3 separate regions of the Homo sapiens genome follow, and all the other regions are linked to region 1. The links come from fine-mapping of genetic effects on gene expression. A gene starts in region 1. Each other region holds a variant in brackets. All regions are shown on one strand. Distances are from middle to middle.

What was found. PIP is the estimated chance that this variant, and not a neighbour inherited with it, causes the effect.
Region 2: its variant is fine-mapped to the expression of GPER1 in whole blood (INTERVAL, PIP above 0.99).
Region 3: its variant is fine-mapped to the expression of GPER1 in whole blood (TOPMed, PIP above 0.99).

The regions. Positions count from the first base shown.
Region 1 is chr7:1,083,170-1,093,508 of GRCh38, reverse strand. It overlaps GPER1 (G protein-coupled estrogen receptor 1), which reads right to left and starts at 5,396. Exons shown (of 2, transcript NM_001098201.3): 1 at 5,188-5,396; 2 at 1-2,102. The coding sequence starts at 1,780. The coding sequence ends at 653. The region is part of intron 2 of CHLSN (cholesin); the gene reads left to right.
Region 2 is chr7:1,107,719-1,118,057 of GRCh38, reverse strand. The region is part of intron 2 of CHLSN (cholesin); the gene reads left to right. It overlaps LOC102723758 (a long non-coding RNA gene), which reads right to left and starts at 5,283. Exons shown (of 4, transcript XR_007060183.1): 1 at 1-5,283. RefSeq lists enhancers at 458-1,657, 7,027-7,867, 9,270-9,813. The variant TA/A (reference allele first, on the strand shown) is at 5,352.
Region 3 is chr7:1,154,408-1,164,746 of GRCh38, reverse strand. It overlaps ZFAND2A (zinc finger AN1-type containing 2A), which reads left to right and starts at 4,551. Exons shown (of 5, transcript NM_182491.4): 1 at 4,551-4,783; 2 at 6,490-6,589; 3 at 6,997-7,091; 4 at 9,163-9,294. The coding sequence starts at 6,535. It overlaps ZFAND2A-DT (ZFAND2A divergent transcript), which reads right to left and starts at 4,373. Exons shown (of 3, transcript NR_110069.1): 1 at 4,124-4,373; 2 at 2,204-2,395; 3 at 1-586. RefSeq lists enhancers at 3,395-3,907, 3,908-4,421, 4,422-4,934, 4,935-5,449 and silencers at 4,013-4,062, 4,073-4,612. The variant G/A (reference allele first, on the strand shown) is at 4,406.

The DNA of each region.
Region 1 (10,339 bases):
TCCGGGCCGAGCGCTGCTGCTCCTCGTGGGCCTGGTGAGGCCGCACAGCGCCATTGCTGCCATCCTGGAAGATGGAGGACGCTCAGGCGTGCACCAGAGCAGCATGTTTTCCTTCTCCTCTTTAACTCGGCGGTGCGCTAGCTAGCTCAGACCGTGGGCACAGAGGACACACCGCGACGTCCAGCTCAGACCCACCAGCACCTTGCATCTCCAGCGTCAGTTCCCCCACGGTGGCAGATTTGCTTTAGGGTTCCTGTGTAACTGAGGCGCTTCACCCACAGTGGCCTCTCCGTGTGGCTTTCCTGGTCGACGGTGTCAGAAATGTTTCCTGCAGCGGCAGGCAGGTGCAGCGGCAGGCAGGGTTGGCGGGGAGGAGCTGGGTGACAGGCTGGTCACCGCTGGCCTTTGGACCCTGCGGGGCGAGCGCTTTGGGATTGTAGCAATTCTGTGTGAGGAGTGCAAGGTGACCAGTCGTGAGGTTTCCTAAGCAGCCCCAGGGTGACCAGGCAAGCGTGACCCTCGCGAGGCCCCGAGGAGCCAGAAGCCACATCTGACCGCAGTTTAGAGACATGACGTGGCCGTGCCTTGTGTCCACCCAGGTGTGTGCAGCTCCCGAGTCACACCCTGGCTGGGCCTATGCGGCCAAGGCTGTCTACACGGCACTGCTGAACCTCACATCCGACTGCTCGGTGCTGTCTGGAATGACGGCCTTCAGGGCAGCGTGACAGAAGCGGTTCAGGGCCGGCAAATTTGTTTTCTGCTCAATGTACAGCCTCAGCTTGTCCCTGAAGGTCTCCCCGAGAAAGCTGTAGATGAGGGGGTTTAGGCAGCTGTTGGAGAAGGCGGCGAGGTTGACAATGTGGCCCGTGAGGGGGTGGGCATGGCGGAAAGACTGCTTGCAGGGAGCGGCCCCAGGCTGCGTCCGCTGCAGGAGGTGCACGCTGATGAAGACGTTCTCCGGCAGCCAGCAGACGAAGAAGACCAGCACCACCGCGAGGATCATGCGGAGCGCCTTCTGCCGCCGGGGCCGCAGCCCACGGTGCCGGTGCGCCCTGACCAGCACCCGGACAATGAGGGAGTAGCACAGGCCGATGATGGCGAAGGGCACGATGAAGCCCAGCGTGACCTCGAGCCACTGCACCTCCCGGACATCCGCGAAACAGAAGCAGGCCTCGTCGGTGTGCTGCAGGTGCACGGCGGTGAAGGGCACCAGCGTGGCTGACACGGATGCCATCCAGATGAGGCCACAGCTCAGCCGGGCGTGGTGCTTGGTGCGGAACAGGCTGCAGCGCATGGCCCTGGCCAGGGCGATGTAGCGGTCGAAGCTCATCCAGGTGAGGAAGAAGACGCTGCTGTACATGTTGACCTGCAGGAAGAGCGACATGAAGGTGCACAGGACGGCGATGTCGTAGTACCGCTCGTGCAGGTTGAACACCTCAATGAGGGAGTCGGCCACCAGGATGAGGTCCGCCACCGCCAGGTTGATGAAGTACAGGTCGGGGATGGTCATCTTCTCGCGGAAGCTGATGTTCACCACCAGGATCAGGATGTTGCCCACAAAGCCGATGGGGAAGAGGAAGATGGTGTAGAGGCACGAGAGGAACAGGCCGATCACGTACTGCTGGTGCTCCGAGAGCTCACCTGTCCCATTGGCCAGGGCGGTGCCCAGGAGCGGGTGGGACAGGTTGAGCTCGGGGGAGGTGGTGTTGGGGGCCGCAGGCTGCGCGGTGCCTGGGTACATCTCCAGGCCCACGCCCCGGGCTTGGGAAGTCACATCCATGTCTCTGCACCGTGCAGCTTTCAAGATTTGCCGAAAGGCTCCCAGAGCTCTGTTTTAAATGGTGAATCCATCTTTAGAAAGAAGCGTGATTCTCCTTGAAGTGAGCCTGGCATTTGTCAGACAGGAAACTCCCCAGGAGGAGCACCTGTGGTGGTTTGGGTTGGGTTTGTTAACTGCAGAGAGTGGGAAGAACAGATGCTCCTCACACCGGCATGGTGCATCCGTGGAGGCGAGGGCCCTCCGCGTGCTCGTCCGGCGGGCGTCCCTGCGGGTGTCGGCCACCGTGCACAGTCCCGCGTGGAGCTGCTCACTCTCTGGGTACCTGGAGAAGCAACAGGAGAGGATGAAGTCTCATCGAGTGGCCCCAGCTTTGGGACAAGGCCTGGCTCCCCTGGCCGGGTGTCTGTAGAGTCTGGGTGTGTCAGGAGCACTGGGGAGGGCCAGAACCTCAGCTTTATGAGCTCGGGAGGTGGCTGTGGTTGAGCTGAGGTGGAAGAGTCGCCTGTGGGAAGTACATGGCCTTCTTTCCTGCAGGTCCCACGGCTGCTCAGCTGCAGCTGGAGGCTGGACGTGAGTCACTCCCACAGGCAGGGGTGTTTTTCCCTTTATAGCCACAGAGCAGGCCCAGGAAGCAATGAAGGTATGGGCACGGCCGCCCCAGGACAACGGCATTTGTGAGGAGAGGGGAAAATGCATTTCAGCAGCTGATGGAGAAGTAAGATAGGAAGGGAAAGCCAGTGTTTCTGAGAGAGAGAGAGTGGGTCCAGAAAGCTGGACATCAGAGCAGAATCTTCTCTTACGATAAAACAGAAGTTCAGCGGTTTCCTCATGCTAGTTCTGTGTTCTAGGTACCAAAAATAAACTTATTTTCGTAATATAGAGTGAAAGGGGTCATTGTTTTGGGAAATAATATGTACGTTTTTATTTCATGTTTTAACAAATTATTGTAAAACCTAATATGTTTTTGCAATGCTGTTTGTAACCTAGGAAGAAACTCCAGGGAGAGAGTCCCTCCCGAGCTTATCCTCTGCAGAGAGGGAGAAGTGGGCTGTCCGCCCACGGCGGTGCCCGGGCTCTGCCGCCAGTGGGGAGGGTCCCGTCACCCACCCCGTGTCACCCTGGCTCTGCCGCCAGTGGAGAGGTCCCGTCACCCGCCCCGTGTCACCCCGGCTCTGCCGCCAGTGGGTAGGGTCCCATCACCTGCCCTGTGTCACCCCGGCTCTGCCGCCAGTGGGGAGGGTCCCATCACCCACCCCGTGTCACCCTGGCCCTGCTGCGAGTGGGGAGGTCCTGTCACCTGCCCCGTGTCACCCCGGCTCTGCCGCCAGTGGGGAGGGTCCCGTCACCTGCCCCGTGTCACTGTGCTCCTGGAAGTTCTCTATGCAGCGGGCCACGGGGGTCTCAGCCTGCAGACACTGGCAGTCTCTGGGGATGCGGGGGCAGTCACAGGGGGGTGCTGGTGGGGCCAGGGCTGCCGCTCAGCTCCCTACAGTGCCTAGGACAGGTGCCCAAGCCCAGCAGAGAATTACCTGGCCCAGATGGTGCTGGTGCCCTGGAGTAAACTAACACTTCAAAATGGGTTTGAGTTGTTTTTCCTTTGGGAATTTTCATTTTACCTTTTGAAATCATTAGGAGTTATTGTTTTGAATGTTTTTTTTTTTTGGTCACCCAGGTTGGAGTGCAGTGGCACAATCTCGGCTCACTGCAACTGCCGCCTCCCGGGTTAGAGTGGTTCTCCTGCCTCAGCCTCCTGAGTATCTGGGATTATAGGTGTGCACCACCACGCCTGGCTAATGTTTTATATTTTTAGTAGAGATGGGGTTTTACCATGTTGCCCAGGCTTGTATCGAACTTCTGACCTGTAGTGATCTGCCCGCCTTGGCCTCCCACGGTGCTGGGATTACAGGTGTGATCCACCGCGCCGGGCCAGGGGTTATTGTTTTGAAGTGCTGCAAAACCAGACTAGAGATTTGTTGACCTATTGCTTGAAAATACTTACTTAAAAAAAAAAAAAAAAAAAAGGCTGGCCTATAATCCCAGCACTTCAGGAAGATGAGGTGGGAGGATTGCTCAAGTTCAGGAGTTCGAGACCAGCCTGGGTAACATGGCGAAACCCTGTCTCTACTAAAAAAAGACAAAAAAAGTAGCTGGGCATAGTGGTGTGCGCCTGTAGTCCCAGCTACTCGGGAGGCTGAGGCAGGAGGATCGCCTGAGCCTGGCAGGTAGAGGTTGCAGTGAGCCAAGATCACACCACTGCACTCGAGCCTCAGCCGAGATCACACCACTGCACTCGAGCCTCAGCCGAGATCACACCACTGCACTCGAGCCTGAGCTACTGCAGTGAGGCCCCATCTCAAAAACAGGCGGGTGGGGAAGACAAGATGAATCACTGCCTCTGTGTCAGTTATTCTAAAAGTACTGAATAACCTTCACTTAGCTGGGGCTGGTGAATTTGATTTTGGTTATTTTGCACTCTTGATTCATCTTTAGTAGATAATACCATTGAACAGCATAAATGCCTCTGCTCTCAGGCTCTGTCGGGAAGGTTGAAAGACTCCGCATTTCGCCTCTGTATTTAATTTCTTAAAAACGGCACAGAGGACTTGTTTTGCTCTTTAAATGTAGAAATTTTGGAACGTATTAGACCGTGGCGTGGCAGGAAGTTTAAAGGTGGGCAGAACCCTCAACTTAACGTTTATTTTCTTTCCTAATTTTGTTAAATGAACTCCAAGGGAAAAATAGTTTAAAAACGAGTCATTCATTTCTTTCCCATGTAAATTGAGTCTTTTGATCGTTGCCAGACACCGAGAAGATACGGGACCTGGTGTCTGATGTGTCCTAGTGTCTGATGTGGTCCTGGGTGAGAGGAACCTAGTGTGCCATTCACCACTGGCCCCACGTCCTCACTGGAGGTGGCCATGGAGTTATAAACAGTGCAATACCTCATTTCAGATTTCCTCTGCTTGTCATAGAGAAATAAAGCCACACTTTAGTCAGCTGTATTAAGTCTGCATCTGTCAAAAGGCGTGTGGCCCTCCCAGGGCTTCAGGGTTGGTGAGAGTGACTGGGGCACCGCAGGGCAGGGCAGAGTGGGCACCCTCATTTTCTTGAAGTGAGACACGTTCTTGCTGGGACAGAACGTGACGGAATACTGGGTCCTGCTTTCAGCACGAGTTAGAAAGGCCGTCCAGGCAAAGCCCCTGCTGCGGTCACGCTGAGACCACCGGAGCTCCGGGGGAGAGGGGTCTGTGCCTTGAGTTTGGGAAGCTGGGTGCTGCTCTCACCAGGGGGTGAGGTGTCTGGTCTGTGTTCAGCTGTTCCCATAACAGGACAGCGGCCTGGGTGGCACCACCCACCCGCTCCCCTAGTCAGTGGTATGGCACCGCCAGGCCGAGGCTGAGTCCTACCTGGGTTGCAGCCCCTTCTGTGCTCCTGGAAGCCTCCTTGGTCAGGCCCATCAGGCTGGAGGTGCACTTGGAACCCGCTGCAGGAGGTGTACCTCTGCTGGACCTGCCGAATGCCTGAGCAGGGCTAGAGAGAGGAAGAGACCCGCCCTGGGAGCCCGCGAGGGAAGGTTCCCGGCTGGCTGGCGGGTGCGTCCTCCCTCTGAGCCAGTGAGTCTGCCCCTTGGCACAGGGCTTTATAGGCCCCCTCCGCCCCGCTCCTCTCTGGCTCCTCTCTGGCCAGGCTCTGGGCGGCCTCCTCAGAAGGCTAGTGTTAACCATTTTTTTGCTGGCCCTTTTTCTCCCACACTTTGGCAATCAGCTCAGTTCTACTAGACTTGTTTTTGTGGAAGTTTCTGGTTTAACTGCTTTTCTTCACCCACAGATACAAACCTTTCTTTAAGTTTGAAGGCATCATACTAGGTGTTGTGTATCTTTTAGGCAATAACCTGTCCTCCTGGGTTGAAGCAAGCAATATTCTTGTTTTTGCAACTGACCTGCGTTAAACACTAAATTTCATAATTAACTTAGTAGCATGTGCATGATCCATAAAGAATTTAACAGGAATTTCACAGACATTTGCAGAGAGAAGTGTAATCCCAAGAAATAGGCATTTCTGACAAGTAACTTAGGAATCTGAGTACTGGTTAAGCATCTGGAAATCTGAAATCCAGAGTGCCCCACAGTCCGACACTGTTGGAGCGTCGTGACACAAGTGGAAAATTCCACACCTGACCTCGTGTGGCGGGCTGCAGTCCAGGCAGTTCAAAGTTTGTTTTATGCATGAAATTGTTAAAAGTGTTTTTATAAAGTTGCCTTCAGGCAGTGTGTATAAGGTGTGTATGAAACACAAATGAATTTCGTATTTAGCTTTCTCATTCTGTACCTGCAGATATTCCAAAATCTGCAAAAATCTGAACTCCGAAACTCTTCCGGTCCCAAGCATTCAGACCAGGGACCCTCAGCCGGTAGTTTTCTCTGAGTGTTAGCGGTGCCTCAGGTCCCTCCTCCCGCGCTCGCTGCAGAAGCGTCGGAACTTACCTGCCGTCCAGATGTTGGTGGCCTCTTCCCCACCAGGGCCGCCTCTCCTGCTCATGGTTGCGGATTTCACAGTCTCGTGCAGGCGGAGAATAAACCTCCCTCCCCGGACTCTCGGGGCCGCTGAACTGCCTCATGCGGGGCGGCCACTTCCGAGTGCGCCCCCTACTGGCCATTTGAATTTTCACTCGCCGCTTCGGGAACCGATGGCCGCCCCATGAGGGCAGAGCGAGGCCCCCCAAGCCCGCGTGGGCTGTCCAGGCCGAAGGGGTCCTCAGGCACCGCCAGCCCCGGCTCTCCAGGCGGAGGGGTGGGTCTTCCTCAGAAGGGAACTTCAGCGAATCTCACTCCTACTTCTAGGTGTCGTTTTCCCTCTGTAATGTTTTGAAGTGGTGAGATTGAATGCTGAGTGATCCTTTGTCCGCTGAGTATGAGTAATGCGGCTGCTGCAGCCTGAGGCGTGGTTCAGAGACCTGCGTGGGCTCCCCCCTTCCCCCTCCCCCCCAGGAGAGCTGGTGCAGGCAGAGGACTGGGGTGCTGGGCCTCCAGGTGCACTCGGCCCCTCGGGACCTGCTCCCCGCCAGGAGAGCTGGTGCAGGTGCAAGAGTGGGGTGCTGGGCCTCCAGGGGCACTCGGCCCCTCGGGACCTGCTGGGGCTCAAGGCATCTGTGCAATAGCAATTTAAAGTCTTTCAGATGTGTATTTTAGGAAATATACACACATTTCCTAAACAGAATGCTGTGTTAATTTTTTAATGGAAAAATACTAACGTGGAGTTTTCTTCCAGCAGTAGAAAGTTGACAACTCTAATATGTACCTTTTTGTATTTGGATGATAAAGAGCTGATTTGCTCTTAGACATTTTTTGACCAGCTGTGAAGTTGAGATGATTTCAGCATTAAAAATGCCTGAGACACAATTTTGAAAGATGTGAGTCATGAGAAAGTACAGAAAAAAATAAGTAAAATAAAAATTCAAACCTTGAAATAGCTGAGACATGTCACTTAAAAATAGCTGCACCCTGCTAGTGCAAACCCATGGCTTCTGGTCTCTCTGCCCATCCCAGCGGCTGAGGAAGAGCTCAGCTCCCAAGCTCTCCACTCACGTGCCCTGGGTTTCCTGGGGAGCCTGCCCTGGGCGGGCGAGTGGCCGATACTCCTAGATTTCCTGCTTGCAGCATAGAGTCAGCGGATCGGGGCATCTGGGTCTTGGAGCGCAGCCTTCTCCTGTGGGCACTGGGCGGGTAAGTAACTTGTACTGTACAGCTACTGATGTAAGAGACAGGGCCCGGACTGCAGGAACTTCCGTCTCCAAGACCTACTTAATACTTGATGTGTGACGGCATGGCAGGAATCTCGTGGACTATTTGTAAGGCATAGAGACCTTTTGCCGATTTTTAAATCTTTTTTTTTTTTTGAGACAGGATTTTGCTCTGTTGCCCAGGCCAGTGTGCAGTGGCCTGATCTCAGCTCACTGCAGCCTCCACCTCCCAGGCTCAAGCCATCCTCCCACCCCGGCCCCTGAGTAGCTGGGACTACAGATGCGAGCCGCTAATTTTTTTTTTTTTTTTAATTTTTTTGTAGAGATAAGGTCTCACTGTATTGCCAAGGCTGGTCTTGAACTCCTGGGCTCAAGAGATCCTCCTGTCTCAGCCTCCTTCAGTGTAGAATGTGACATTGTACACATGCATGCTGGGCGCTGTGCGGTGCTCTGCGTGCTTGATCTTAGGTCACCCTCCTTCAGAGCCTGTGAGGCAGGGCTGTCCTTCTCCCCGTCTCATGGTTGCAGAAACTGACTGCAGGGAGGTGGTGTCACCGCGGCCTCACAGCTGGCCAGGAGCAGATCTGGGAGGGGCCGGCTGACTCTGAGCACATGGTCTCGGCCTGTACACCAGAGGCGTCCTGGGTCAATAGTCATCTTTTCAGGCACTGATTTCCTTGTTGGATCTGATGTCGTTATGAATTTTTAAGAAGTGAAAATATTTTTCTGTTCATCCCCAGGATAGAATAAAAGGAAAGAACTTCAAGGGGAATTTCATCTGATCATTGCTTATTGAGCTAAATGCACACATAGCCAAATACTGGATAATGCATAGAGAAAAACACGCACAAAGTAAGGCAGTGTGTCTCCAGCTTCAGGAGCCCTCCCGAGTGAATGCCACGTAGGAAACCTTGGCCCTCGCCTTTGACCCTTCAGTCCTCGCGTGCAAAGCCCAGTCCTTGTGCTGAGAGGCCCCAGACACAGGGCCTGCAGTGCCTTCCCAGCGCCCCTCCCTCTGCCAGCACTGACTGACTGAGCAACCCCTTCCTGCTCCCTGTCCCATCCCCAGTCCTCTCCCATGCCCTCCATGGTAGGCAGCAGCATGGGTCCCCCTGATTCTGCAGGAGCAGAGCCCTCAGGGAGTTGCATGTCGCCGTCCAAACAACCCTGGTTTTCAGCGTTGCCGGCTCCAGCCCGGGTTCCACTTCCTCACCCCACGTGCTGTGTGATACCGGGCAACGTCTCTAACCTTCCTGAGCCTCAGTGCCCATCTGTACAGTGGGGGTGCGTGGGTCTACACGGTTCTGTGAGATCCCACACACCCCTTGTCTCTGCTGGGCGGAGTGAGGCTTCCCTTCCCACCAACTGCTGCTCCTTTTCAAGGGGAGCGGTCCACCAGGGGCAAGGGTGGGGCGGCACTGCCTGAGATTAGCCCAGTCCTGGCTCATTCGCTTCTCCCCCATAGGCACAAGGGAGGGAGCAGTTGGTTGGAGGTGCTCACAGTACCACGCGCCGGATCCACCTTACAGGGGAGACATCAAGCTGTGTGCAGAAGGAATTCTAGAGCTAACACATGCTGGAAGACAGCCCGAGGTTCGGAGAAGTGCGCCGTGTCTCACATGCCAGGCGGACACATTCTCTGATGATGGAGAGTCAAGGGAGGCCGAGAGCCCCTTCCCACGCCCCCGGGAGGGCATCGCTGGCGTCCCCCGCCTCCGCGTGACATGCAGGAGCACCCTCGGGCATCCGATCCTCACAGGCCTGGAGCATTAAGGAGACATGCACCAGCAGCCCCTTTATAGAAAGAGCCCAGGTCCCAAGGAAGCTGTGTGTGGGGTGTGCGGGTTTTGCCGCACCAGTGGCAGGCGGGGTTGGAACTCTGCTCCAATTTCTGCATTCCGTGCCATATCCTGACTTTAGGGACATCCTGTGACCTCCCCTCAGACAGACTTGCCATGTCTTCCATCTGTTCCATTCCGGCCTGGGGAGGTTAGCTGCTGTCAGGACGTGGTGCGGCCCACAGTGACTTCGTCTCTCTTGTTCCTTCAGAAGCACGCAGGCCGTGGCTCCGCGCCAGGTTGGAGCCTTTCATTCAGGGTGTGTGCCTGCCGAGCCCGGAAACAGTGCGGTGAGGGGCAGGGCATCCTGGTTTTCTGCTGTGTCGCCTGGCACTGGTGGACGTGGGCGCGTCGGTGCCGCCGTCCTGTCCCTGTTTGGTGTCTGCAGCTGGAGGGCCCAGTTAACGGTGGGTGTGTGCAGACCACAGTTGACCACAGCATGCTGAGCACGGAAGCTCAGGTGCTCCCGTCGTCTGCGCCTCCACACTCTCGTGTTTTTTTTTGTTTTTTTTGTTTTTTTTTTGAGATGGAGTCTTGCTCTGTCGCCCAGGCTGGAGTGCAGTGGTGCGAACTCCACTCACTGCAAGCTCCACCTCCCGGGTTCACACCGTTCTCCTGCCTCAGCCTCCCGAGTAGCTGGGACTACAGGCGTCTGCCACCAGGCCCGGCTAATTTTTTGTATTTTTTTTTAGTAGAGATGGGGTTTTACTGTGTTAGCCAGGATGGTCTCGATCTCCTGACCTCGTGATCCACCCGCCTCACCCTCCCAAAGTGCTGGGATTACAGGCTTGAGCCACCGCGCCCGGCCCACACTCTCATCTTCTATCACTTTCCCTCACAAGACGGAATTTGCTGCACTCAGAGACCATCTGGCCCGTCAGCCCCTGGGCGTGACTCCAGCACTGAAGGCGCGTGCGGCTGCTGGCCTACAAGGCATTGGCAGTTTTGCGGGTCTCCCAGCAGGGCCCCCTCAGTGGTTGC
Region 2 (10,339 bases), 25 kb before region 1:
TAGTGTGGCTCTCTGGATGAGAAGATGGGCAGCATGTGACACTGGCAGCATTCCCGTAGCAGGAACGATGGGCTTCCTTTTTGTCTGTTTTTGAATAAGCACAGGCCTGTGGTCCCAGCTTCTAGGGGGGCCGAGGTGGGAGGATCCCTTGAGCTCAGGAGTTCAGGGCCAGCCTGGGCAATGTAGCAAGACCTGGTCTCTAGAAAACAAAACAAAATGAAAAAGGCGTGTGGGTGATGGAAGCTGGTCGGTAGAGCCGTAGCGATGTCATGCTGCGTGGGCGTCGGTGATGGAAGCCGGTCCTAGAGCTATAGTGATGTCATCATCCTGCGTGGGCGTTGGTGATGGAAGCCGGTCCGTAGAGCTGTAGTGATGTCATCCTGCATGGGCGTCGGTGATGGAAGCCGGTCCGTAGAGCTGTAGTGATGTCATCATCCTGCGTGAGCGTCGGTGATGGAAGCCGGTCCATAGAGCTGTAGTGATGTCATCATCCTGCGTGGACATTGGTGATGGAAGCCGGTCCTAGAGCTGTAGTGATGTCATCATCCTGCGTGGATGTCGGTGATGGAAGCCGGTCCGTAGAACTGCAGTGATGTCATCATCCTGCGTGGGCGTCTGTGATGGAAGCCGGTCCGTAGAACTGCAGTGATGTCATCCTGCGTGGGCGTTGGTGATGGAAGCCGGTCCGTAGAGCTGCAGTGATGTCATCATCCTGCGTGGGCGTCGGTGATGGAAGCCGGTCTGTAGAGCTGTAGTGATGTCATCATCCTGCGTGGGCGTCGGTGATGGAAGCCGGTCCGTAGAGCTGTAGTGATGTCATCATCCTGCGTGGACGTCGGTGATGGAAGCCGGTCCGTAGAGTTGTAGTGATGTCATCATCCTGCGTGGACGTCGGTGATGGAAGCCGGTCCGTAGAGCTGTAGTGATGTCATCATCCTGCGTGGGCGTCGGTGATGGAAGCCGGTCCGTAGAGCTGTAGTGATGTCATCATCCTGCGTGGGCGTCGGTGATGGAAGCCGGTCCGTAGAACTGTAGTGCTGTCATCATCCTGCGTGGGCGTCGGTGATGGAAGCCGGTCCTAGAACTGCAGTGATGTCATCATCCTGCGTGGGCGTCGGTGATGGAAGCCGGTCCTAGAACTGCAGTGATGTCATCATCCTGCGTGGACGTCGGTGATGGAAGCCGGTCCGTAGAGCTGCAGTCATGTCATCATCCTGCGTGGGCGTCGGTGATGGAAGCCGGTCCCTAGATCTGTAGTGATGTCATCATCCTGCATGGGCGTTGGTGATGGAAGCCTGTCCGTAGAGCTGTAGTGATGTCATCATCCTGCGTGGACGTCGGTGATGGAAGCCGGTCCGTAGAGCTGTAGTGATGTCATCATCCTGCGTGGACGTCGGTGATGGAAGCCGGTCCGTAGAACTGTAGTGATGTCATCATCCTGCGTGGGCGTCGGTGATGGAAGCCGGTCCGTAGAACTGTAGTGATGTCATCATCCTGCGTGGGCGTCGGTGATGGAAGCCGGTCCTAGAACTGCAGTGATGTCATCATCCTGCGTGGGCGTCGGTGATGGAAGCTGGTCCTAGAACTGCAGTGATGTCATCATCCTGCGTGGACGTCGGTGATGGAAGCCGGTCCGTAGAGCTGCAGTCATGTCATCATCCTGCGTGGGCGTCGGTGATGGAAGCTGTCCCTAGAGCTGTAGTGATGTCATCATCCTGCATGGGCGTTGGTGATGGAAGCCTGTCCGTAGAGCTGTAGTGATGTCATCCTGCGTGGGCCTTGGTGATGGAAGCCGGTCCGTAGAGCTGTAGTGAAGTCATCCTGCGTGGGCGTTGGTGATGGAAGCCAGTCCCTAGAGCTGTAGTGATGTCATCCTGCGTGGGCGTTGGTGATGGAAGCCGGTCCGTAGAGCTGTAGTTATGTCATCCTGCATGGGCATTGGTGATGGAAGCCGGTCCCTAGAGCTGTAGTGATGTCATCATCCTGCGTGGGCGTCGGTGATGGAAGCGGGTCCGTAGAGCTGTAGTGATGTCATCATCCTGCGTGGGCGTCGGTGCTGGAAGCCGGTCCGTAGAGCTGCAGTGATGTCATCATCCTGCGTGGGCTTTGGTGATGGAAGCCGTCCCTAGAGCTTTAGTGATGTCATCCTGCGTGGGCGTTGGTGATGGAAGCCGGTCCTAGAGCTGTAGTGATGTCATCATCCTGCGTGGGCGTCGGTGATGGAAGCCATCCCTAGAGCTGTAGTGATGTCATCCTGCGTGGGCGTTGGTGATGGAAGCCGGTCCGTAGTGCTGTAGTGATGTCATCATCCTGCGTGGGCGTCGGTGATGGAAGCCGGTCCGTAGAGCTGTAGTGAAGTCATCCTGCGTGGGCGTTGGTGATGGAAGCCGGTCCTAGAGCTGTAGTGATGTCATCATCCTGCGTGGGCGTTGGTGATGGAAGCCATCCCTAGAGCTGTAGTGATGCCATCCTGCCTGGGCGTTGGTGATGGAAGCCTGTCCGTAGAGCTGTAGTGATGTCATCCTGCATGGGCGTTGGTGATGGAAGCCGGTCCGTAGAGCTGTAGTGAAGTCATCCTGCGTGGGCGTTGGTGATGAGGAGGGTGGATGGCGTCTGACCTGGGAGGTGATGGGGAGCGCCTCCTGATTTCCTGTTCTCTGTGTTAAATAGCAAACATCCCCTGGCGCCCGGTGAGGGCGAGCCTGGGGGCTGGGTCTGTGGTGGGGCGTTTCCCGAAGGGTGGGCAGTGGCAGGGCCGGGGCCGTTTCTCATCTCAGTGAATGCCCAAGAAGTGTTTGGAGAAATTTAACACCCAGACATGATGAAAATCAAACAGTTTCTTCCCTCTCCCCAAGAAACACTCCTAAAAAACAGCAAAGATTTATTATAAAATGAGGCATATCTTTTTGGATCTTATTTATCTCAAAAGATGAGAATTTTTAAGCAAGTAGAGACTTTGAATTGTCTCCGCCAAAGCATGAGCTTTCACTTTTGTGGACTGCAGTCTGGTAACAGACATGCCCACGGTATCCACAAAGGCGAAACAGGACCCCCACAGGCATCTCAAACAGGAAGGGGTTTAACACAGGGAGTTTGGTGCTTATGGGGTTGCTGGGAAGGCTGCAGAGTGACCATGGCTCCCACCCACGTCCAACCCTGCAACCCTGTGAGAGCAGCTGCTTTGTGCGGGGCAGGGGCAGCTCTCCTGCGAGCCCCTCCACCTCCCCTCCTGCCCCGTGGGGCCTCAGACACCTGCCCATCGCCCGGGCAGAATGGCTCCCGGGCCACCCTCGTTTCTGAGCCCTGGCTCACCCCGCGGTTTGGGCCTGGCGATTCCTTGCTCTTGTCAGCCCTGGTTTGCTGGTGTTCCTGATCACCATCTCTTTCCCTCACCCATGGGAGAGCTGGCCTCAGTCCTTCCGTAAAGGCCAGCTGGGGAAGGGGGTAGCCCTTGGGCCCCGCGCCCATCACGGCCTGTGGAGCAGGAACAGCGTTAGGCCATGAGCGGCCGAGCGGGGGCAGCCGTGTCCAACCAAAGCTGATTTACCCACAGAGGCTGCCGGGGACTTGACCAGGGGGCTGAAGTTTCATTCTCCGAGTCTAAACATCGAGTCCAACCAAGGCAGAAACAGCACTTCTCCAGGCTCACCACAATTCACGCTGGTGACAGGGGCGCATTTGCCTCTTTAACCTGCAGCTTAGGACCTGCGTCTGAGGTCACTCCCCAGCTGCGGGCGGCCTCTGCCCTGACAGATCGTGGCACTTAGGCAGCAGGTCTTTCTGCCTCCAGTTCTGCGTCTCCTACCACGTGGAAGAGGCCCAGTGGTTGCACTTTGAGTAAGGAACAGCCCGGCCCTTGTATGGGCCAGTGGCCGCACAGTCTGGCCTGCACCCCTTGGGAAGTTGGCAGGACTCTGGGTTTATTGTGGGAAATGATCAGGGCCGTGTCCTTGCTACAGTGGGAAAGCTTGCCATGGGCACCGCTGCACTGCGGGTTAATTAGGAGAAGAATAGGGCATCAGTGAGCAACAAGAGGACATTTAACTTGAAATATAAAATTAGTATCTATGTCGACGGGAAGTTGAGCCACTGAGAGGTTTGTACTTCTTTCTGAGCTCGGGCCTCTCCATTCGCTCCCTGGAGACAAGTTTGAGAAGAGCCCCGGAGCAGAGCGTGGCCTCCTGCCGTCCAGGCCGGGTCCTGGAGCCCCTTTGCCCCTCGAAGCCTGCCATGGCTCAGAGTTTCTGCACCGCTCCTTGCCTGGCAGTCAGAGCTGGCACCCGCGGGTAGGAATTACAGGCACAGGTGGTGGCTTGGGATGAGGCACGCTGTCGGAAAATCAGTGCTGTCTAAGAGGAGGTAATGAGTCTGTCCTGGGAAATGCTCGGGCTGGGACGAGGTGGGTGTCGTAAGGGCCGCCCGGGAAGGAGTCCTGTGGAGCGTGAGATGTGAAGTAGATGAGCTCCGAGTCCCTGCCCAGCGCTGCCATCCGATTCCAGCTGTTCTGCATCCTGTGGGGCGTGGTGACCCATCAGCACCTCGTGATGCTTACAGAATCTTCTCAGTGTGGACGGTCGAAGCAAGTCCGTGCCCCTGCCATGTGGGTCGCACACCTGCTCCGAACAGGAACAGCACCAGCCTGCAGAGAACAGGAGCAGCTGCTGCTGCCCGGGCGGCGCCTTCTGGGAGCGGGCACTCCTGGCTTTCAGGGCATTGGTTGCTGGGGGACAGTGTGAAAACACAGTACTCAGCAAGCCAGTGCCATCAGGGCGCTCACTCGCACTTTCTCTTAAAGCAAGTTTATGTTTAAAATAACGGTAGATTCTTAGTAAATTAAAAAAAAAAAAAGCATGAGGGGCCTGTGTGGCCTGGCTTCCCCAGGACATCGACGTGGATGCCTCGCACAGAGCTCGTCCAGAGTCCACGGTTGTACGTGCGGGTGTGTGCGTGTGTGTGCGCCCTGCAGTTTTTCCAGGTGCATAGCTTCCTGTAACCACCACTGTGGCGGTCAAGATACAGGAGGATCCTGCACTGCACGGCTCCTGGTGCTGCTGCTTTATAGACCCTTATTCATCCACGGTGCAAAGAACATTTGGATCTCTGGGCTTTGGCTTTTGTGAGTAAAGCTCTGTAAATATGCCTGAGCATACGTTTCCATCGCTCTGGGGTAAGTGCCCAGGACGTGGCTGCCGGGTTGCATGGTGCATGCATGTTTAGATGTTTACGAAGCCGCTGCGCTTCTCCAGAGTGGCCGTGCCGTTTTGCGTTCGCACTGCAAGCACAGCTGAGGCCGGACCCCGCACCCTCACTGGCACATGGTGTGATCGCTTTTTCTTTTTTTTTTTTTTTTT[TA/A]GCCATTTGGATCACAGCACTCCCGTTTCGAAGAGGACAGCCGATTAATGTCCTAGGAATTAGGAGAAGCAGAATTAAAGCTCGTTTGCTTTTCCAAGGCTCGTGATATGTGCTATTGGCCCAATCGTTGCTGGAAGCTGCCAGGTTCCGTGGGACTTTCCTGGCTTCATGTGGGGCCATCCACGGTGTTCCTGTCCGAGGAGGCTCGTTCACCCTGTCTGTGTGGGGCACTCCTGTGGTCTCTTTCTCCAGGAGCCTTTTGGGGGTAGCCGTCCCAGCCACCTTGCCAGGCGTCTCTCAGAGTGAGCAGGTGGAGGCCGGGCCGCAGGGCAGGTGAGCTGTTAGCTGGCACTGGGCTCCCGGCCGGCCTCTCTCATCTCTAAGCTGGGCTTTCTCAGCCTGCTGGTCAGATCCAAAGAACTGCTGAGAAACTGGAGGCTCGCCGGCCTTCCTCACTGCCATGGAGATCTGACCATCCTCATTCTGGGCCAAAGAAAACAGGATCCACTTCCCCATATTCCAGAAAGCCCACTGTTTCCATGTCAGTGGAATTTCCATCTAATGCTGTCATTGCTGCTGTGATCAGCCCAGATGTTTGCCAGCGCTGCTTCTTTGTGGTCAACAGAAACGAACTCAGCAAAATGTAATTTTAAAAAAGTAATGTGTATTATTTTTCCTGAGTTATACATGATTAATGTAAAAGAAATTAGAAAATACAGAGAAATTTATGGAAGAAACCAGAAAGACTGATTCTGCCACCGTGAAATGACGCCGTGGTTAACGTCTGTAGCAGCCGCGTGTGCTGAGGATTTCTGCAGTGGGCATGTTTGCTTTTCCATCCACAGCGAGTCCTCACTCAGTGTCACCCGCCCCGAGGCCCTTGGAAACTGCAACTTTTTTTTTTTTGAGAGGGTCTCCCTCTGTCACCCAGGCTGAAGTGCAATGGCGTGATCCTGGCTCACTGTAGCCTCAACCTCCCTGGCTCAAGTGATCCTCCCACCTCAGCCTCCCAAGTAGCTGGGACCACAGGTTTATGTATCACCATGCCCAGCTAAATTTTGTATTTTTTGTAGGGACAGAGTCTCCCTACGTTGCCTAGGCTGGTCTTGAAATCCCAGGCTCAAGCGATCCTCTCGCCTTGGCCTCCCAGAGTGCTGGGATTTCAGGGATGAGCCACCTCACCTGGCCAGAAACTGTGACTTTAAGCAAAACGACAAACAGCAGGCCCTTGAATAAAGACTGTTTTGTTCAACACCTTTGTGTTATGCCATGGATGAGAATAGTAGTTGGTTTCATTTTATGTCTTTCCCTTAAAGTTGCACTTTGAGAAAACCTTTGCCATCAAGATGGTTATATGAGGCCTGGGCCGCAGCAGAACACCTGCTACCCTGTGTCCTCCCTGGGTGTTGTGATCCAGTGTGACAGGAAGCAGTGATAGCTGGTGATTGCTTTATTTTATTTATTTATTTTAAATAGCAAAACATTTTAATCAGTTAATTCTAAAAATAACAGAGACATGTTATATCTGGTGCCGCCTCCTCAAAAGTTTACCACAGATTAGACAGGCAGACTGCAAAGCACCAAGCCAGACATTAAATGTTTTTTGTTGTTTTTTTTGCTTTTTTCTTTTGAGACGGAGTCTCGCTCTGTCGCCCAGGCTGGAGTGCCCTGGTGCGATCCCGGCTCACTGCAACCGCCACCTCCTGGGTTCAAGCAGTTCTCTGCCTCGGCCTCTGGAGTAGCTGGGACTACAGGCGTGTGCCACCACACCTGGCGTGATTGCTTTAATTTCAGCTTCTAAGATTACGGTTGATGGTCATTTTCCATGTACATATTGGTCATTTGGTTTTTTTTTGTGAATTGCCTGTGTGTGGTTTTTGCTTTTTTTTTTTTAACCACTTCTATTGTAATTTATCTTTTCTGTACTGATTTGCAAACACACTTCTTAAACTAAGAGCCTTTATCTATCCTTCATGTTTCAAATATTTTTCCAGTTGGGCTGTTTGTGTTTATGGCTTTTGCCCTACACAGACAGCGGCCTCCCACGCCCCACAGCGCTGTGGCCGCACAGGCCCCGCGAGGCCCGTGTCCCGGTCTGCTCCCTCGGGATGCGGCCCCATGGTGGATCTCCCCAAACCCCCGACACCCGCTCCCGCTCTGCCCCACGGGAGCCATGGGAAGACGTGGCGGGAGGCGCGGGAAGAGCGCTCAGGCTGCCCAGGCGGCCGTGCCTTCGCACTGAGGGGCCCTTCCCAGCCTCCGTTAGATTTGGAGACCTTGGCCCGGGAGGTGCCGGCGCGGGGAGAGGGGTGAGGGGTCTTTGGTGGCTGGCTTTTCCTCTCGGAGCCGCACCATGAAGATGGAAGCCCTGCTCGGCATCCTTGTCGTCGGAGGACGTGCCTCCCTGATTTTCACAGCGGATTGTTTAGCTTAGCTTTTGTGGTGGTGTGTGCGCTTTCCTTCCTGGCATCTCGAGGTATTCTGGCGGGAAGCTAGGAGCGGCTGCGTGGGGATTTTGCTACCACATGCGCTGGTGCCGCCAGAGCTCTTCCACGGACTGAGCCCTGCCTCGGCCGGCGCGAGGTCCTCTGTCTCCTGTGGGCACCCGCTCGCCTCTGCGCTTGGGGCAGATTTGCGTAGCCTCCGTGTCTGGGCGTGGAGGGCCCGGGAGAAGGTGCCGGCATTGGTGTCCTCCCCACGCTGCCCTCCGGCTCATTACTGTAGCCCTGGACGCAGCCCACGGCCCGGCGAGGCTGCGCTCGCACTGGCATTTGTGGAGAGAGCGGAGGTAGTTAGAGTCTGCCCGTGAGGAGGTGAGGATGGAGGTGGTTGCCTGGTAGACAGAGAGATGTCTTTGCTGGCATCTGGACCGAAAGTCACCCGTGGCGCCGAGACGCAGAGGCACGTGGGAATCGGGAAGCTGTGCTGCCCCAGGGCCCGGCGGGCGGGAAGGGCTCCGCCGCCCACGGAGGGGTGAGTGGGGAGGGCCCGGCGGGGGAGGGGAAGGGCCCTGCTGGCCATGGAGGGGTGAGTGGGGAGGGCCCGGCGGGCGGGAAAGGCTCCGTCGCCCACGCAGAGGTGAGTGGGGAGGGCATGTCCACCTGTTCCGTGTTCGCACCTGCAGACTAAACTCACCGCACCCCAGGGTGTGGAGCGACTGCGTGCTGAGCTGCAAGTGAAATGGAGTGTTACACTGTAGCCTTTACGAAAATGAGCAGTGAAAGAGTTTTTTATATGCTTTTAGGAACCACGCAGGAATGGGGGGCCTCAGGGGCCACGCGTGTCGGCTGGATTCCCAAGGTGATCTTCAGGCCGGTGGTTTTCAGCCTGTTGGGATTAGGACCACTTGAAGGGTCTTAATTCTTTTATTGGATTAAGGTATTTTAAAATTGTTTAAAACAAATACATGCTTGTCATGAAAGTTTAGGTAATGCAGATATATGGAACTTCTGTCAATATGGTGGATTGGTCAACATGGGAAATCGTCCCTTCTGCCTCACACACATAAAAATACTGGAAGAGGCTGGGCGTGGTGGCTCCGAGCACTTTGGGAGGCTGTGGCGGGTGGATCACCTGAGGTCAGGAATTTGAGACCAGTCTGGCCAACATGTTGAAACCCTGTCTCTACAAAAAATAGAAAAATGAGCTGGGTGTGATGGTGGGGCGCCTGTGATCCCAGCTACTTGGGAGGCTGAGGCAGGAGAATCGCTTGAACCTGGGAAGCAGAGTTGCAGTGAGCCGAGTTTGCAGCACTGCACTCCAGCCTGGGCGACAGAGCGAGACTCCGTCTCAAAAAAAAAAAAAAAAAAATGCCTGGGAGAAATATCACAGCCGAATTTTCTAGCATAGTTAATTCAAAAGCAGGTGGTAAAGAAGAGACCCAGCAGCCGCTCCAGTGAGGGGGGTGCACACTGGATGGCCCCCATCGGCATCAAAGCGGGTGCACACGGTAGGGGCGTGTGTGTCAGCAGTGACACGGCAACCCGGGTGATCTCAGACACTCAGGCGGCAGAGAGTGGAACTCAACTGCCCTCCTAGCCGAGAGCCACTTGTCCTTAAAATGGGAGGTACAAAATCCTTTTAGCTGGCGGAGACACATGGCAGGGAAGCTGGGGTGGATAGAAAGCCATCCGCACAGAATCAGAACCCCAGGCAGATTTGCACTGCCCCCGCCTCATGGGAACCCCCAGTTGACAAGTCAGCACACCCGTGCGTTTGGGCCGTGAGATTCGTGGAGTCCGCAGCAGATAGGTGCAAAGCTGCCCACAGGGCCCGCCAAGGAGAGCAGCCCCCCTCTGCTTCCCCGCAGAGCGCGGGACACAGCCCCCCTCTGCTTCCCCCCGGGGTGCGGGACACAGCCCCCCTCTGCTTCCTCCCGGGGCGCGGGACTCCAGTGTGGGACACAGCCCTCCCCTGCTTCCCCCCGGGGTGCGGGACTCCAGTGCGGGACACAGCCCTCCTCTGCTTCCCCCCCGGGGTGCGGGACTCCAGTGCGGGACACAGCCCCCCTCTGCTTCCCCCCGGGGTGCGGGACTCCAGTGCGGGACACAGCCCCCCTCTGCTTCCCCCCGGGGTGCGGGACTCCAGTGCGGGACACAGCCCCCCTCTGCTTCCCCCCGGGGTGCGGGACTCCAGTGCGGGACACAGCCCCCCTCTGCTTCCCCCCGGGGTGCGGGACTCCAGTGCGGGACACAGCCCCCCTCTGCTTCCTCCCGGGGTGCGGGTCTCCAGTGCGGGACACAGCCCCCCTCTGCTTCCTCCCGGGGTGCGGGTCTCCAGTGTGGGACACAGCCCTCCTCTGCTTCCTCCCGGGGTGCGGGTCTCCAGTGTGGGACACAGCCCTCCTCTGCTTCCTCCCGGGGTGCGGGTCTCCAGTGTGGGACACAGCCCTCCTCTGCTTCCTCCAGGGGTGCAGGACTCCAGTGTGGGACACAGCCCTCCTCTGCTTCCTCCCGGGGCGTGGGGCTCCAGTGCAGGAAGGTCTTCC
Region 3 (10,339 bases), 71 kb before region 1:
GGTTCTTTGGCCTTCCGGCTCTGGGACTAACACCAGTAGCTTTCCGGGGTCTCTGGGCATTTGGCCACAGACTGAAGCCTGAACTGTTGGATTCCGTTTGAGGCTGTTGGACTCCGGCTGAGCCACTGCTGGCTTCCTCGCTCCTCAGCTTGCAGATGGCCTGTCATGGGACTTTGCCTTGTGATGGTGTGAGCCAGTTCTTCATAAACTTTCTTTCATATGTACATATATCCTATTAGTTCTGTCCTTCTGCAGCACCTTGACTAAGACAATGCTGTAATCTCAGAATGTCTTCCTGGAAAATACGAATCAACTGACAAATGAAAACACGGTGTCTTCATTCTGGCAAAACCCAGCAGACACCAATACCACCAGGGAATTGAGATAAACATAACCCAGGTAGAACTGGCTGGAAGCCTGTGCCCTGACATGAGGACTCAGGACACGGCACCTTCTCTGCAGTCCCGCCAAGAATATAAGATCCATCCTAGGTGTATGAGAAGTCTTTGCCCTTTAATAAGGATGGGCGTCTGCAAAGACACATTCCAGTTTGGGGAAAGCTGAAACTGTGATAGTGGATGAGATCCTGGAGCGGAAAGGAAAAGAGACATTGTTGATACTGTCTGTAAAATCTGCAGGAGGCTGAGGCAGGAGCATCGCTTGAACCCAGGAGGCAGAAGTTGCAGTGAGCCAAGATCGCACCACTGTACTCCAGCCTGGGCGACTGAGCGAGACTCCGTCTCAACAACAAAAAAAAACTGAATGGGGTCTGAGAATCAGAACTTAGTATTGTTTCTTTTCTTTTTTTGAGACAGAGCTTCACTCTGTCAACCAGGCTGGAGTGTAGTGGCACAATCTAGGCTCACTGCAACTTCCACCTCCCAGGTTCAAGCGATTCTTCTGCCTTAACATCCTGAGCAGCTGGAATTACAGGTGCGCCGCGCCCCCCACCACACCTGGCCAATTTTTTTGTTTTGTTTTGTTTTGAGATGGAGTCTCACTGTTGCCCAAGCTGGAGTGCAGTGGGGCGATCTCAGCTCACTGCAACCTCCACCCCCGAGATTCTCCTGCCGCAGCCTCCCGAGTAGCTGGGATTACAGGTGTGCACCACCATGCCCGGCTAATGTCTGTATTTTTACTAGAGAAGGAGTTTCACCATACTGGTCAGGCTGGTCTCAAACTCCTGACCTCAGGTGATCCACCCGCCTTGGCCTCCCCAAGTGCTGGAATTACATGCGTGAGCCACCGTACCTGGCCACACGTAGTTTCTTGATTGCAAGAAGGCTGTCATGTGCCTAAGGGAGAAAAAGACGTGCTGATCAACTTCAGTCAGGCATGAGTGACAGAGGTACTGGCCATGAATTCCATGTTAATGAATCAACTAGACATTATTAAATAAGGAACCTTGAGAGAGAGACATGTACAACAAGGTTAACGATGAACTGCTTAACAAAAATGCTGTGGCCAGCGGCTCGGAGGAACCTGACTCTGTATTTCCCCGGGAGCCAGTGCCTATGGGTGTTACTCACCAACACTCACGATAATTAGATGATTCCAGGTTTCCTGCGACTTTGCAGAACTATCACTGAGCAACGCAAGGTGAAACATAAGCAGGGCCACTCACGTTTGCTTTTTTCACAAGGTCAGACTTTTATTGATACTTAATCAGAAAAGCCGCAACTACACAGGTTTCCCAAGGTGGCAATTCCCCTTAGCACAGCCCGTTCACTCGGTGGCCACAGCCCCGGGCATTCAGGCTCAGACCACTCCACAGGTGAGTCAACACTGCAAACCAAAGATAGTAGTAAACTTAATACATAAATGTTACAGATTATGGATTAAAATGTCCACTTACATCAAGAGAAAAGGGGGGCAGGCCGGGCACAGTGCCTCACGCCTGTAATCCCAGCACTTGGGGAGGCCAAGGCGGATGGATCACCTGACCAGCCTGGCTAACATGATGAAACCCCATCTCTTCCTAAAATACAAAACAATTAGCTGTGCGTGGTGGTGTGTACCTGTAATCCTACTTGGGAGGCTGAGGTGGGAGAATCACTTGAACCTGCAAGGCGGAGGTTGCAATGAGCCGAGACCGAGTCATTGCACTCCAGCCTGGGCAACAAGAATGAAACTCTGTCTCAGAAAAAAAAAAAAAAAGAAAAAGAAAAAAAAAGAAAATGTGGGTAAAACAGGGTTAACGAACCAGTCCAAGGAGAGCGATGTGGCCAAGGAGGAGGTCCTGCACTGATCCAGACATCTTGAAAGGTGGGAGTCCGGGCCTGGGCAGAGCCTTCAAGGGGAGATGTTGTGTGATTGGGAGGGACAGCAAGATGGAGCCAGTCACCACCGCCGTGCAGCTGGTGAGGTCCTGCTCTTTTCACAGCCCTTGAGTTCTCTGGTGAAAACCGAGAGTAAAGACTGTACAATAAGCCGGGCACAGTGGCTCATGTTCTGTAATCCCAGCGCTTTGGGAAGCTGAGGCAGAGGGATCACCTGAGGTCAGGAGTTCAAGACCAGCCTGGGCTACATAGCAAAACCCCGTATCTACAAAAAATACAAAAATTAGCCAGGCATGATGGCGCATGCCTGTAGCTCCCGCTACTCAGGAGCCTGAGGAAGAAGGATGGCTTGAGCCTGGGAGGTGGAGGCTGCAGTGAGCTGTGATCATCCCAGTGCCCTTCAGCCTGAGCCACAGAGGAAGACACTGTCTAAAGAAAAACAACAAGCTGGGCGCAGTGGCTCACGCCTGTAATGCCAGTACTTTGGGAGGCCGAGGCAGGCAGATCACCTGAGGTTGGGAGTTTGAGACCAGCCTGACCAATATGGAGAAACCCCCGTCTCTACTAAAAATACAAAATTAGCCGGGCCTGGTGGTGCATGCCTGTAATCCCAGCTACTTGGGAGACTGAGGCAGGAGAATCGCTTGAACCCAGGAGGTGGTGGTTCCGGTGAGCCGAGATCACACCACTGCACTCCAGCCTGGGCAACAAGAGTGAAACTCCATCTCAAAACAACAAACAAAAAACAAAACAAGAAAAAGCATGCCTGGTTGTGTCTGTCCTTACCTGATTGGGCATGGTCTCTATTGATTAGGCGACCATCTGGTCTGGTTGGCACGACGCTTTTTGGGTTTGAGGAAGGGTCTGCTCTGCTGCCCAGGCTCTAGTGCAGGGCGCATTCACAGCTGACTTATGCCTCCACCTCCCAAGAGGCTGGGACTGCAGGTGCATGCCACCATGCTGCGTTCATTTCTTATTTTTGTAGAGACAGGGTTTCGTCATGTTCACCAGGCTGGTCTTGAACTCCTGTCAGGCCTCTGAGCCCAAGCTAAGCCATCATATCCCCAGTGACCTGCATGTATACATCCAGATGGCCTGAAGCAACTGAAGATCCACAAAAGAAGTGAAAACAGCCTTAACTGATGACATTCCACCCTTGTAATTTGTTTCTGCCCCATCCTAACTGATCAATGTACTTTGTAATCTCCTCTACCCTTAAGAAGGTTCTTTGTAATTCTCCCCACCCTTGAGAATGTACCTTATGAGATCCACCACCTGCCTGCAAAACATTGCTCCTAACTCCACCGTCTATCCCAAAACCTGTAAGAACTAATGATAATCCCATCGCCCTTTGCTGACTCTCTTTTCCGACTCAGCCGGGCTGCACCCGGGTGAAATAAACAGCCTTGTTGCTCACACAAAGCCTGTTTGGTGGTCTCTTCACACAGACATGTGAGACACTAACCTCAGGCCATCCTCCCACCTCGGCCTCCCAAAGTGCCGGGATTACAGGCCTGAGCCACCGTGCACCGTCCGGCTAATATTTTATTTCTGCAGAGATGGGGTCTCGCTATGTTGCCCAGGCTGGTCTCCATGTCCTGGGCCCACGCCCTCCTCCTGCCCAGCTGGGCGGGGTCTTACCCAGGCGGAGCCCCTTACGTGCAGGGCGTTCTGTGCAGTGACCGCGGCCCTGGGCAGAGCCAACCCCACGCGGCCACATAACCGTCCAGGGGGCGGGGGGCAGCGCGGTGAAATGGAAAAGGATTTAACTGGGGGATCTAGGTGCTGGGGACACTGACATTTTCGGTATTATTCTTGAAGCTTTTCCCTAAGTTTGAAATTACCTAAAAACACGTTGTTTTGAGATGGAGGCCTCCTGGGGCCCGCAGGATGCGCGGCCGCGGGCGGGTGCCCGGGGCGGGAGGCGCCGGATGGGTCGCTAGGCCTCCTCCCTCAGGCCGGCCTCGCGCTCCTACCCCGCAGGACCCCGGCCGCAGCCCTGAGTCAGCTTCCCCGCTCCTCGCCCGCCCGGCTGCGCCTGCGCGGAGCCGCCTCACTGTGACCCAGCAAGCGCGCCGCCTGCGAGAAGCGACCGGACACTTCGAGAAGGGAAGTGGAGAAGCGAG[G/A]AGTGGGCGGGCCTGCGGGGCGCGGCGGGGCGGGATTGGCCGGATGGCTGGTGTCGTCTTCGGTGTGCGCCGGCGCCACTGGGCCGCGGCCTGGCGGGATTGGCCGGTCTGCGGGTGACGTTGTCGGGGCGCGCCCGGAAACCCCAAGGCCCAGACGGCTCTCAGATCCGGGGGCTGCGGATAAATCCCCGTAGGCCGCGGGCAGCGAGATGTTGCGTTCCGGTGTGGGTGTGGGTGTGCCTCCGACGGCGTCTCGGTGCCAGTGTCGAGGTTCTTTCTGCTTAGCTACCCGGAGCCGACTACGGAGGAGGACACCTGAGTTTACGTCTCTTCCATCTGCTGCTCACCTCAGCTGCCTGGGTCCCCGACGAGAGCCAGGTACGGGGCCGGGATTGCGCAGACAGGGTCTGCCGGGGGTCGGGCCTGCCTTGAGGTCAGGTTGCTCGGGGGTTCGGCCTGTCTGCTAGGAGTGCGGCTGCTGAAAGTCCGGCTGCTTGCTGGAGGTCAGGCTGCTGGGGGTCCGGCCTGTCTGCTGGGGACCGGGCCTGCCGGGGTCTGGCTGCTGGGGGTCCGGCCTGTCTGCTGGGGACCGGGCCTGCCGGGGTCTGGCTGTTGGGGGTCCGGCTGTCTGCTGGGGACCGGGCCTGCCGGGGTCTGGCTGCTGGGGGTCCGGCCTGTCTGCTGGGGACCGGGCCTGCCGGGGTCTGGCTGCTGGGGGTCCGGCCTGTCTGCTGGGGACCGGGCCTGCCGGGGTCTGGCTGTTGGGGGTCCGGCCTGTCTGCTGGGGACCGGGCCTGCCGGGGTCTGGCTGTTGGGGGTCCGGCTGTCTGCTGGGGACCGGGCCTGCCGGGGTCTGGCTGCTGGGGGTCCGGCCTGTCTGCTGGGAGTCCGGCTGTCTGCTGGGGGCCGGGCCTGCCATCGGGGCCGTAGTACCGGGTCGCACGGGGTCGTTAACCCGCCAGCCGAGTGACAGCCACGTAGATGTGTGTTTTCTTGCTGCGGGCCCGGCCCGCCAGGGTAGGGTGTTGGTTTCCTAGGACGGGTGCTGTGCGTCCAGAACAAAATCATTTGGGGATTCACATCAAACTCTTGTGAATTCCTTGAACAAAACAATTTCGGAACGCCTGCTGTGTGTCGGGCACCGGGAGCTAATAGTAAAGCAGCGGATCTGTAGTTGGAAGCTGTGGGCGAAGGAGGGCTGGGAAAGGACTAATGGGCACCTTAAGTAGCGGGCGTGTAACATAGAGGGAACTGGGGAGGGTGGGAATGGCTTTAAACTGAGGCGGGAGGGGATAACTAGACGTTTGCCATGGGCGAGAGTGTTCCAGTCTTAGGCGACAGTCTAGGAGGCCTCCAGGAGTGGGGAGAGAGCTGATGGGAAGGTCAGGAAAAGGCCCCGGGAGGGGCTGGTGAGTACTAGATGACGGGACCTCGTGAGCCCCAGGAAAAGGCCCCGGGAGGGCTGGTGGGTACTAGATCATGGAGGGGACCTCGTGAGCCCCTTGATTCTCTCTCGAGTGCGGTAGTTTCACCAGCTGTCTGCCTGTTTTCCATAGTGACTTAACAGCTTGCGCTTCTCCCTGATCAACTCCAGGTTGATGTCATCGAGGAATAAGTTCACAGTAAGATTCAATGCCTAAGGGAGTTGAAGAGAGAGGCGAGGGACAGAGTTAAATCTTCTCTGGATAATGGAGTCAACTGATGTGATTTAGCACCTAGTAACAGAGTTTTGTTTATGTGAACAAGTATATTCCATGGATAAAATTGTGACTTAAAATTCACCAAAGTCGTAATCATCACTGGCAGCTGTGTGAATTAGCTCTCGCCCCCTCAGTGTGAGTTTAAATAGAAACCCGAGTTCAAGGAGTGCTTCATAGACTAGGAATTAAAAGGCCTGTGAAGGAGTCCGTGTCTCTTAATGGGGTTGACTACGAATGGCGGACACCTGGTATTTGTACTAAAACTCCATGGAATGCTCCCCACACAGTGCGTTTGTTGACTTTCATTAGCTGTAATTACATTGTAAATCCTGGTGACTGAAGGGCAGTCCAGCTTTCCTCCTAACTATTCTGATTCTCTTGTAGGTGACACTTAACTCCGCCATCTGCGTTTTGAGCACTGTTCTCATAATGGAGTTTCCTGATTTGGGGAAGCATTGTTCAGAAAAGACTTGCAAGCAGCTAGGTGAGTACTTTTAAGAGACTTAATAGAAAATGGTATTTTGTTGGGGGAAAGCTGGCTGTTCTGTTAATTAGCTGATAATTGTGTCTTGGCCTTCCTGGCTCCTCAGTATTGGGAACTGTGCTGGTGCAGGTTCTGTTTGACACTTAGCATCCACCAGAGGCTGGGTGCAGGAGTGCAGGCTGGCTAGCAGGGCCAGGTGGATCCAGGGGGCTGCTGGAATACTTGCGATGCCATAGGGGGTCTCTAGAAGACAGCCTGACCCTGGGATTGTTTTCACATGTGTGGCCCTCGAGGACCTGTCCATCTCATAGGCCTAAAACACTTAGTGTAGGTAAACACTTTGATAGTACTATCTGGAAGTATTTTGTTCCAGTCGTTAAAACACTTCCCTGTTTTTTGTTTTTTAGATTTTCTTCCAGTAAAATGTGATGCATGTAAACAAGATTTCTGTAAAGATCATTTTCCATACGCTGCACATAAGTGTCCGTTTGCATTCCAGAAGGTAATTGATCCTTTGTTCAAAAGATTCTCATCTTCACCGTCTGAAGCTGCACTGTCTTGCTGGTATGGTAGGGACTAGCGACGTATGGCTAACTCATTGAAAATTAAATTTTAAAATCCAGTTTTTCAGTCCCACTAGCCTCGTTTCAGGTGCCTGCTGTTAGGCAGTACAGAGGAGCGTGTCTGCCCTCACAGGACATTCTGTTGGATGACTCTCAGACAACTGAGATCTTATTTTCAGGGACTCATGGAGTCACTTAGTTGTAACCTTATGTTCCAAGCTTACTTTAGATGTTCAAATACTTGGTTCCTTTGATCTGTTACACCATAGCTGTTACACCATAGCTGTGTCTTCACCAGATGCAAGAAAGATTTTAATATTTGACTTGGAAGCCAATCAGGAAGGCAGTAAATACGCTTATTGATTTGAATAACTGCAGCCTTGACATAGTATTTAGGTGACTCCCAGAGTACACAGCAGAAACTGAAAGAGGACCTAAGGAAATGAGCTTGCCCCGAGTCCAGAGGTTTGAGACTTGTTGTTGACTTTTCAGATGGTTCCCAGCCCGTGTTTACTTTGTCTCTGGATGGGTCACAGGTCATTTTAGTGAACTCTGCCACTTGACCGTGGTGGCAGTGGTAATGTGGGTGGCCCAGCATTCTGTGCTTTGACCAGTGTTGGCCAGGGTCTGACCCTCCAGCCATTTTTAGGCCATCACGGTGGGTGGGGAGGGTGACTCACATTCCCTGCGTTTACTAGGCACGGATGACTAAGCCAGACTGCCCAGCTTGTCTTCCCACTGCCCCTTCCTGCCCCAGCATGGGGTGGGGTCTGGCTGGAGACCGTTTACTAATACTTTATTTCATTTGACCAAATGAGGAAGCACCACCACCTGTGACTCTCCCAGCTCGGGCTGTAGACGGGTGTGCTCATAATTCCGTGAGCACCTGCCACCCGTTCCATGTCGGTTGCCACCTCGGTTTTCTCATTGACCTTTCCATCAATTCCTGCCCTGGCTCAGGTTTTTAGCCATGCTGGGCGTTAGCTGCTGGGCGGTCCACCCCTTCGGAGCCCCCAGCTCAGGTTTTTAGCCTTGCTGGGCCTTCAGCTGCTGGGCGGTCCACCCCTTCGGAGCCCCCAGCTCAGGTTTTTAGCCTTGCTGGGCCTTCAGCTGCTGGGCGGTCCACCCCTTCGGAGCCCCCAGCTCAGGTTTTTAGCCTTGCTGGGCCTTCAGCTGCTGGGCGGTCCACCCCTTCGGAGCCCCCAGCTCAGGTTTTTAGCCTTGCTGGGCCTTCAGCTGCTGGGCGGTCCACCCCTTCGGAGCCCCCAGCTCAGGTTTTTAGCCTTGCTGGGCCTTCAGCTGCTGGGCGGTCCACCCCTTCGGAGCCCCCAGCTCAGGTTTTTAGCCTTGCTGGGCCTTCAGCTGCTGGGCGGTCCACCCCTTCGGAGCCCCCAGCTCAGGTTTTTAGCCTTGCTGGGCCTTCAGCTGCTGGGCAGTCCACCCCTTCGGAGCCCCCAGCTCAGGTTTTTAGCCTTGCTGGGCGGTCCACCCCTTTGGAGCCCTCACAACCTTGGCCTGCAGCCAGTGACGGTCGTTAGTACCTGGGAGCTCACCCTAGGTACACGTGGCCTCATCTGGGCGCAAGCAACTCTCTGTGTACGTAGAAGCCACTGGGGAAACCGCAAAGGGATCAGGCCGTTGGCGACTGAGGGGAGCTGGAGGGTCTTTGTGGTCCATGTTTCCCTCCATCTCCTCCCTGTGGAGGTGTCTGGGCAGGCTCTGTTCTCACCTGGGCGGTGCCAGCCTGAGATGGCCCCAGCTGGTTTCTGCAGTCGGCTGAAGTCCATTCGTTGAAACTTCACTAGACTCCTCAGGGCAGCTGATGCCCACATTCTAGAGATGGCTGCCGCTAATCCATGACCCAGTGATGCTTTGTTCTCGGAGGGCTCGGGAGACCGGTTTTTGTCCTCTCTTTGTGTTTAAGTGTGCCGCACAGGAGTACTCGTTTAAAACTTCTGTGAGTTTAAGTTGCATGAGTCTCAGATGCCATCTTACCTTTGTTATTTTTAGGATGTTCACGTCCCAGTATGCCCACTCTGTAATACCCCCATCCCAGTAAAAAAGGGCCAGATACCAGACGTGGTGGTTGGTGATCACATTGACAGAGACTGTGACTCTCACCCTGGGAAGAAGAAAGAGAAGGTAAGGACAGAGCCCGCCTCAGTTCCTTCATCTGGGAAGCCTGGTTTTTCCTTGGGAAGAGTCAGTTTGCTACCTGAAAATTACTCCCAATAGTTTATGTACAAAGTAGAAAAGAAGAGTCCTAACGCTGCGTTATCCCTGTCCTAAACTGCGAGGGGCCTGAGTTTTCAGTTTTATAAATGTTCTTTAATATGAGGGATCCCAGGTCAGGTTCGTCTTTCTTGACTGGAATTTACTAGTTTCCCTCCTGAGATGGAGAATTCACATGGCTTTCTAGATCCATTCTGTTCATGTGCGTTTCATTTGTTTGTTTGTTTGTTTGTTTGTTTTGAGACAGTCTTGCTCTGTCACCCAGGCTGGAGTGCCATGGTGAATGGTGCCGTCTCGGCTCATTGCAACCTCTGCCTCCCGGGTTAAAGCGATTCTCCTGTCTCAGCCTCCCGAGTAGCTGGGACTACAGGCGCATGCCACCACATCCAGCTAACTTTTGTATTTTTAGTAGAGACAGGGTTTCACTATGTTGGCCGGGCTGGTCTTGAACTCCTCACCTTATGATCTGCCCGCCTCAGCCTCCCAAAGTGCTGAGATTATAGGTGTGAGCCACCACGCCCAGCTCAAGGAGCTTCTCTAGTGAACTGGCTGCTGTCAGGCTTAATCCGTTCCTAGTCATGGGTCCTGGTTGGTGGTTACCAACTATCTTAGTATATGATGTTCAATACTTTACAGTTATATTACCATAAACCAAATAACTTTTGGTCTCAAACATAGAGAATAAAATCAGTGTTCCTTAGTCTGCCACACAAAATTCTCTGTGCGGAAGCTTGCTCTGGTCCCCACTTTCTGGCCCTGTCTAGCTCTCCCTGCTGTGGCTGTGCCCTGGGACCCTCAGCCTCTGGAGGTCTCTTAAGCCTCTGAGACATCACAGCTCTCTGGCACACCCGCTTCTTCCACATGACACAGCTTCCCTTGCTGGGGGCTCACCCAGCACTGCCCCAAGGCCCCCACACAGGAATGCCCTCCCGGCTGCTCCTGGCCCGCTGTGCTC